Linked DNA regions of Homo sapiens. The protein of the gene in region 2 interacts with the protein of the main gene of each other region in a pairwise test. Each region holds a gene or a part of one and is shown on either strand. Other genes may lie near its edges.

Region 1 (3,500 bases), on a different chromosome or scaffold from region 2:
AGTCTCAGACATCCCATCATGGGGGCGGTAACTCGAGTCTGGGCTCCCGGAGGACACTGAAGATGGAGGCCTGCTCCGTAGCCCTCTCAGGACTGGGTCATTCTGTTCCTCGCCAGTGGGAGAGCAGTGGGGCCTGGTCCCGAGCGTGGCCACAGGGCCCAGCTGTCCCTGTGCTTCTGTCAAGGGCGGCACATTCTGTCCTTCACGCAACAGCACCATCCCCTCAGCTCATCCCCCATCATGCCTGAAGGAACTATGTGGTGCAGGTTCCCACCCCCAGCCTGGAAGTGTGGAGCCAGACCTGTCTCCTTTTACGTCAGATTCCATCTCCCTGCCTCCCTTTTTCCCCTCTCGTGGCCTGCATTTCTCTCTCCTTCTTGGAGTCTCTGTTTTTGTCTTGCTCTTTCTCTTCTCTCTCCTCCTTCCTTCCCTCCTCCCCCTGCCATTCCTCTGACCCCTTTCCTTCATCTCCATTTGGTTTCATCCTCCGTCCTTCCCTTCTTTCTTGCTCTGCCTCTAGCGCAGGACAGGGTCCATGTGATGTGAGAACCTCCACGCCAAGGCTTGGTTGGGACAGCCCAGGTCTCCCCGCAGGCAAGGAGACTGGAAGGGACGTGGGCCCAGCCACACCCTATAAAGTGGCCATGCACTAAGGACCTGTCCAGAGTCTCCTCTCATATTCTGTTCCATGCTTCTTGCAAGGACTTTCCAACAGAGTGTCCCAGGACAGGAGGAACTTAGGCCACCCAGCATGGAGGCCAGTGGACAGAGGCCAGACCGGCACTGTGGGGGTGCTTGGGCTGGAGGACCCCAGGTACTTCCGGCTTGGAGACATCCTGGACCATCTCCCTGTGATGTTTCATGGGGCCTCAGAATGGAGACCTCACAGTCCCTCCACCTGTCCATCTAGAATATCTACATGCACCAAAGGCCCGCAACACTGCCAGCCCCGAAACATTCCTTCCTACCTTAATCCTCAGACACCCCGAGGAAGGAACGGGTATAGGTGATTTCCCGTGCCTGTGGGCTACAGCCCAGGCTCTGAGCTTGGCACTCACAGCCTTCATAGTCTTGCTGACTGGCTTGCCCTTGGGCCCACCCTGGCCATGTGCCCTGTTCACCCCCAACTCTTACTGTTGTGGGACACTTCTCATGCCTGGGGTGATTGTGTAATGTATGATCACATCTGGGATGCTTTGGCGGGTGGAAGGAGACACTGAATAGTCAATTCCATGGCAACAAGCACAGGCCAGGACTGTCCGAGGCAAACCAGGGCATATGGGCACCCCATTCACCCCTCAGTGTCTTCCTTTCCCTTGGCCTGAGCTGTTGAACCCACCCTTCTTGTCTGGCAGCCTCTCCCTCCCAGCAAGCCCAAAATTGTCAGAGCATCTGTAGCTGCTTTGTGTTCTTAGGGCCTTCTGTCAGCGGGTCCTCTCCCTGCAGGCTGCCTGCCCTCCCTGTCTCCCTACCCTCCTCAGCCCTGGCACACCCAGTTGGTGCTCAGTGAGGCAGGGATTCAAATCTTTGAACCGGGAGTTGTTCTGGGGTGCTACCCCCATGGGTACTTTGAGGCCCAAAAGCCCTCCCTCTGTCCTCCCTGGGCAAGGTCCCTTCCAGGCCAGGCCCTCTCCAGGTCAGAGTCCTTCACCATCCTGTCTCCCTTTCTCTCCCTCTCCCGCGGTCAGTGGCGGCCAGAGGAGTCCGAGGACTATGTAAGTAACAGGTGTGCGAACGCGGACAAGACATGGGTCAAGCTGGGCTCGTGGGACGCTCCTCCTCTCCCTCCTTTCCTGCTAGCCTGCACTGCCAAGATCCACAGGGCTCTAGCCACATCAGGAGAAAATTGGCGTTTAGACACAAGCACTGAGCTGAGCAGCGATTGGCATTTCCTCTAATCCTTACTTCTTGCCTGTCGAGCAGCAATTTGAGGCCAGTGTTCATGATCGACCAGGGCCTGGCCCCTGCCCCGGCCAGACAGGGATGGAGTTAAATCCAATCCTGATCGTTAGGCCTTATTGATCCCTGGAGTGAAAAATCACCTGCTTTAGGGCCCAGGCTGGGAGGGCTGTCTGGAGAGTCGGATTCTGGCATTGGTGCATTCTGGAGCCCCAGCCCTGGGAGACCCTCCAGCTGTGGCAGGAGGGGTCCATGAGGGGGTGGTGGCAGCTGCAGGGGCCCCACTCAAGGCCAGAGCTGGAGGGATACCAGGGTTGATGACGGCTCTGTTCCCACTGCACGGTGGTCCCTGCCCTGCTTCCCACTCTTCTCTCTGTGTGGTGTGGCTTGACCTCCCATGGTGTTTCTCCGCATGTCCAGAGATGATGCCTTTGCTGCAGATGGGTATATGGGCAGGGTCTGCCAAGCGGGGAGGACATTGCCCTGGCTGCTGTCTCAGGCATCACTGAGAACAGATGTGGAAGCCAGTTCCCCAGGTGTGGAGGTTTTCTTATTCTCCTAGCCCCTCCCCTGCCTTTCTCAAGAGGTATTGCAGGGTATAGACATTCACAGAGTTAGTGGCCTATATGGGGGCAGCGGAGTCCTGACTGGGTCCTATAGGATGGCACCTTAGCCCATCCTGCCACCTTGCTCTGTCTGTGCATGCATGCACTGGTGTCCACAGGCAGCCTTACGCCTGCTTATGCAGGAGCTGTAGGCTGTGTGCGTGTGGCTGCCAAGAGCCACGCAAGGTGCTGGGTGCGTGCGAGGCTGTGCCCTGTTGATATCCTCAGTCTCCGTTCACAGCACAGTGGAGTGAGGGAAACAGTCTGGCCCTTTGTTCTTGTCTGAAAAGAATAATGAGCTGTCTGCCCCAGGCGTGCGGCTCCTGGGATGGGCGGGGTCCTCCCAGGCCTGCATCCTACCTGCCTGCTTCCTCTCCAGCAGAGGCCACCATTGTATAGCCCCACCTTCCACAACCCCTGGCCTTGTGTGCCCCGGGGCTCCCCTCAGGCTAGGGTCCTGAGGTCCCTGACAAGGTCTGGCCTCTCCCTGCATTCTTGTGATGGGAACGAACCCCTCCTCCTCCCTCAGGAAACCACTATCAGCGGCCTGACCCCGGAGACCACCTACTCCGTTACTGTTGCTGCCTATACCACCAAGGGGGATGGTGCCCGCAGCAAGCCCAAAATTGTCACTACAACAGGTGCAGGTGAGTGAGGGGTCAGGACGGACCTGAGGGTGGGGCAGCAGGAGGGCAGCGCCAGAGCCCAGCCCGTGGTCCTTCAGTCCCAGGCCGGCCCACCATGATGATCAGCACCACGGCCATGAACACTGCGCTGCTCCAGTGGCACCCACCCAAGGAACTGCCTGGCGAGCTGCTGGGCTACCGGCTGCAGTACTGCCGGGCCGACGAGGCGCGGCCCAACACCATAGATTTCGGCAAGGATGACCAGCACTTCACAGTCACCGGCCTGCACAAGGGGACCACCTACATCTTCCGGCTTGCTGCCAAGAACCGGGCTGGCTTGGGTGAGGAGTTCGAGAAGGAGATCAGGACC
Region 2 (3,500 bases):
GGCACCAATCCCCTGCCTGTAAGCTCCATGTCAGCACGGCTGTGGGCTTGAGCCCTCCCAGGACGCTGCTGGAGCCCCATGGCCTCTCTCCTCTCGCCAGAAGGGCACCCCCAAATAAAACCGTGTGCAGCTATCACACAGCCCCCTGGTCCAGGCACCCCTTCCCAGTGCCCTGAGAATTTTGTCCTGCAGGCTAAGGTGCTCCTCATGTTCCCCTCCCTCTGCCACAACCATCCCTCCTGGGGGAGGAGGACCAGACCATGGGCTCCAATGCAAGCCTCAGGAGGCATACGTCCCTCCTCCCTTCCCCAAGCCCTCGGCCTCTGCTGGGCATATCCAGGCAGCCTGCAATTCCTCAAGCAGGAGCCACCAGAATGTGACAGCCCTTCTAGGGGTCTCAACTCCACCCTGTCCTACACCCCTGCATGAGCCTGCCCTGGTTCCTGCGTGGCTCCTCATTCTCTAAGCCTCCCAGGCCCTCCAGGGACACACAGCAGACAGAGGTCCCAGCAAGGCCCACGGTGACCCATAAAGGAGGCTCCTTGAAACCCAGAAAATCTTTCCAAACTCTCATTCAAGTCCCGCTTGGGGCATCTTGGCATGTTCCCATCAGACAGAGAGAGCCACCTCTCCTGAGCTTGCAGACCCCCACCCCCATGCATTCCGGTCTTTCTGGGTCTCCAGGGTAGCACCCTCCACCCCATATCCAGCTTCTTCCTCCAAGATTCTGTGGCAAAGCCAGCAACCAGGCCCCCCATTACCACAGCATCCAAGACCTAGCGCTCTGCGACTCACCCTCCTGGCTCCGGGGTGTAGCCTCAGCCACAGGGGGCTGGGGCTTGGGCTCCAGCCTGCTCTGCAGCTGAGACACAGGGGCAGGCTCTGAATTCTCCAAGGTCTGGGCTGGGCTGGGGGCGGTGGGCGCCTCAGCAGGCTTGGGCATCTGGATCTCCACCCTCTTGGGGGCTGCGTCGGTGGCAGGGGCAGTGGGCACCTCGGGGACCTTGGAGGCAGGGGGCTCCATCCTCCGGTGGGCTGACTCCTGGGGTTTGACGATGGTGATCTCCGTCCTCCGAGGGGCCGGTTCTGGCGTCTTGTGGCCCAACACCTCGGCCCTCTTGAGCCCGAACCGGGACGGGCCGATGGCCCCGGCGTTCTCCACCTGCTTGGACGAGATGTCAATGGACAGCTCAGTGCGCCGGGACACCGGCTCGGCCGCCTTGGGGCCCGAGAGCTCCACCCTCCGCAGGGACGCCTTGGGGGAGCGTTGGCTTAGGGAGTCCACATGGCGGGCCGAGGGTTCTGAGTTCTTCACGCCCAGGTCCTGGAATTTCTGGGTGGAGCTGGCCACAGTGGCTCGGAGTAGGGGAGTCTGGACCCTCCGGGGTGGGGTGGAGTTGGGTGTCTCGACCTCCTCGACCTCAAAAGATCTTTTCAAGGCTGAAAAATAAAGAGAGGGGATGCAATTGGTGAATGGATGGCTAGGGAACACTCCGGCATGTTTCCTGCTAAGGAGCAGCAGAGGAAGGCAGGCGATGCGGCGGTGAGGGCCGGGGGTCTCTTCCCGTCCTTCATGTCTCAGCAAGCGGAAGGGACAGCCCCATCCTAGGAGAACCATCATGAGTTCTGGGGCAGAGATGCAGGCTGGAGTGGGAAGATGCTGCCCGTCGTGTCTTGCCATGGCCACGGCGCAAACCACACAGCCTCCCCCTCCAGCTACGTCTACATAGGAACGTTCTAGTTCCAGAGAAGACTTTTATTTCCTTCTTTTTTTTTTTGAGATGGAGTCTTGCTCTGTTGCCCTGGCTGGAGTGCAGCGGCACCTCCCGGGTTCAAGCGATTCTCCTACCTCAGCCTCCCCAGTAGCTGGGATTATAGGCACGGGCCACCATGCCTGGCTAATTTTTGTATTTTTAGTAGAGATGGGGTTTCACCATGTTGGTCAGTCTGGTCTCGGACTCCTGACCTCAAGCGATCCACCCGCCTCGGCCTCCCAAAGTGCTGGGATTACAGGCGTGCGCCACCGTGCCCGGCCTTGATTTCCTTCTTGTCGCGGCTGTTTTTATCCCTCCTCACCTCCAGCCAAGGCACACACTGGGACACCACCAGCAAACACACCTCTACCATCAGCCACAGCGGGGGACATGCCTCCAATAATAAGTGACCGCAACTGTAACCAATCAGAACCGCAGCAGGAACAAAACCCCATCAATGACACTAAGGGCGGACACTGGAGCTTTCAGTGCCGGCGAGGCGCCGGGCCTACCGAGCTCATCACATCTGCAGCCGCTTAACCCTGGGATGTAAAGAATACCAGTACCCCCAGTACAGATGGGGAAAGTGGGGCACGGGGTAGACACAGAGCCAGACTGTACATCAGGCTGATACCAGAGCCCAAGGTTCTAACCACTTGGTTGTCCGGCTCCCCCAGCTTAGTCCACAGGAACCAACTTTCTCAGTCATCAGCCTCTCCTGCATCTTCCCATCCACTACTACAAGCCCGTGCAGTGATGCCAACCACCAGCTCCCGCCCTGCAGCCATCCTGCCTCTCCACCAGGGTCTGCTCCCTCGGAGGCAGTGGGGATGGTACCTGGGAAGCTGCCACCTCCACAGTCCCCACAACCGCACTCCAAATGAGAGCCAGCCGCTCCTGGTTATCAGGGCCAGAGCAGGGAGGGACCCACATGGCAGGCACATTCACCAGCTCCTTCCCCAGGCCAGACCCACAGCGCACCCCTGTGGAGACCCACAGTGTCTCCCCAGCCGCTCCCTGCCTCACCAGGCCACAGAGTCCGGGTCTCATGGGATCCCACCACTGCCTCCCCTGCCCACAGGAAAAGGGATGACAGCTGGTCCCCAGCCCCCAATAATAGCGCTCCAGGACCAATTTCAGTGCCTTCCCCTCACCCGTCTCTCTTCCTCCAAATGCACTCAGGCACTGGGGAGGGGAAGAGGAAGCCCAACCCCCTAACCCTGGCCGCCTCAGCTGCCAGCTTCCTGGGCAAGGCACTCCTGTGGGCGCCCTCTCTAAGCCACAGGCACCTCTCCTTCTTGGTGGACACAGACGAAATCCTGGGTCACTAAGCTCAACCTCCACCAGAAGCTGGGCAAGGAGCCGTGTGGACTCCAGAGAACTCTCAGTTGTCACAGGCCCTGTCTCAGCTCCGTCACTGCCCTAGAGGATATGGGCCCGGCGTGGCCAGAGCTGTTCACTTCTCAAGAGAGTAGAAATCTGGATCTTTATATGATATCTCCTGATCTTTAAATGCTGGCACAAAGCAAAACAAGCCCTTTTTAAAACACTGAGCAGCCTGGCTGATGTGGTGAAACCCCATCTTTACTAAAAATAAAAAATTAGCTGGGCATGGTGACACTCGCCTATAGTCCCAGCTACTCAGGAGGCTGAGGCAGGAGAATCGCTTGAACCCGGGAGGCAGAGGTTGCAGAGCTGAGATCGTGTCACTGCACTCAGCCTGACTGACAGAGCGAGACTCTGTCT

Evidence for each region. Proteins that work in one complex are often made in the same cells at the same time.
Region 1: the proteins of SEPTIN9 (region 2) and PTPRF interact in a two-hybrid assay, tested with the Homo sapiens proteins (one study listed by BioGRID).

What each region holds. Positions count from the first base shown.
Region 1 is NC_000001.11:43,600,383-43,603,882, forward strand, and holds part of PTPRF (receptor-type tyrosine-protein phosphatase F isoform 1 precursor), read left to right. Parts: intron 1-1,688; coding exon 1,689-1,715; intron 1,716-3,033; coding exon 3,034-3,151; intron 3,152-3,228; coding exon 3,229-3,500. UniProt on the Homo sapiens protein: Possible cell adhesion receptor. It possesses an intrinsic protein tyrosine phosphatase activity (PTPase) and dephosphorylates EPHA2 regulating its activity.
Region 2 is NC_000017.11:77,399,999-77,403,498, reverse strand, and holds part of SEPTIN9 (septin-9), read right to left. Parts: intron 1,441-3,500; coding exon 796-1,440; intron 1-795.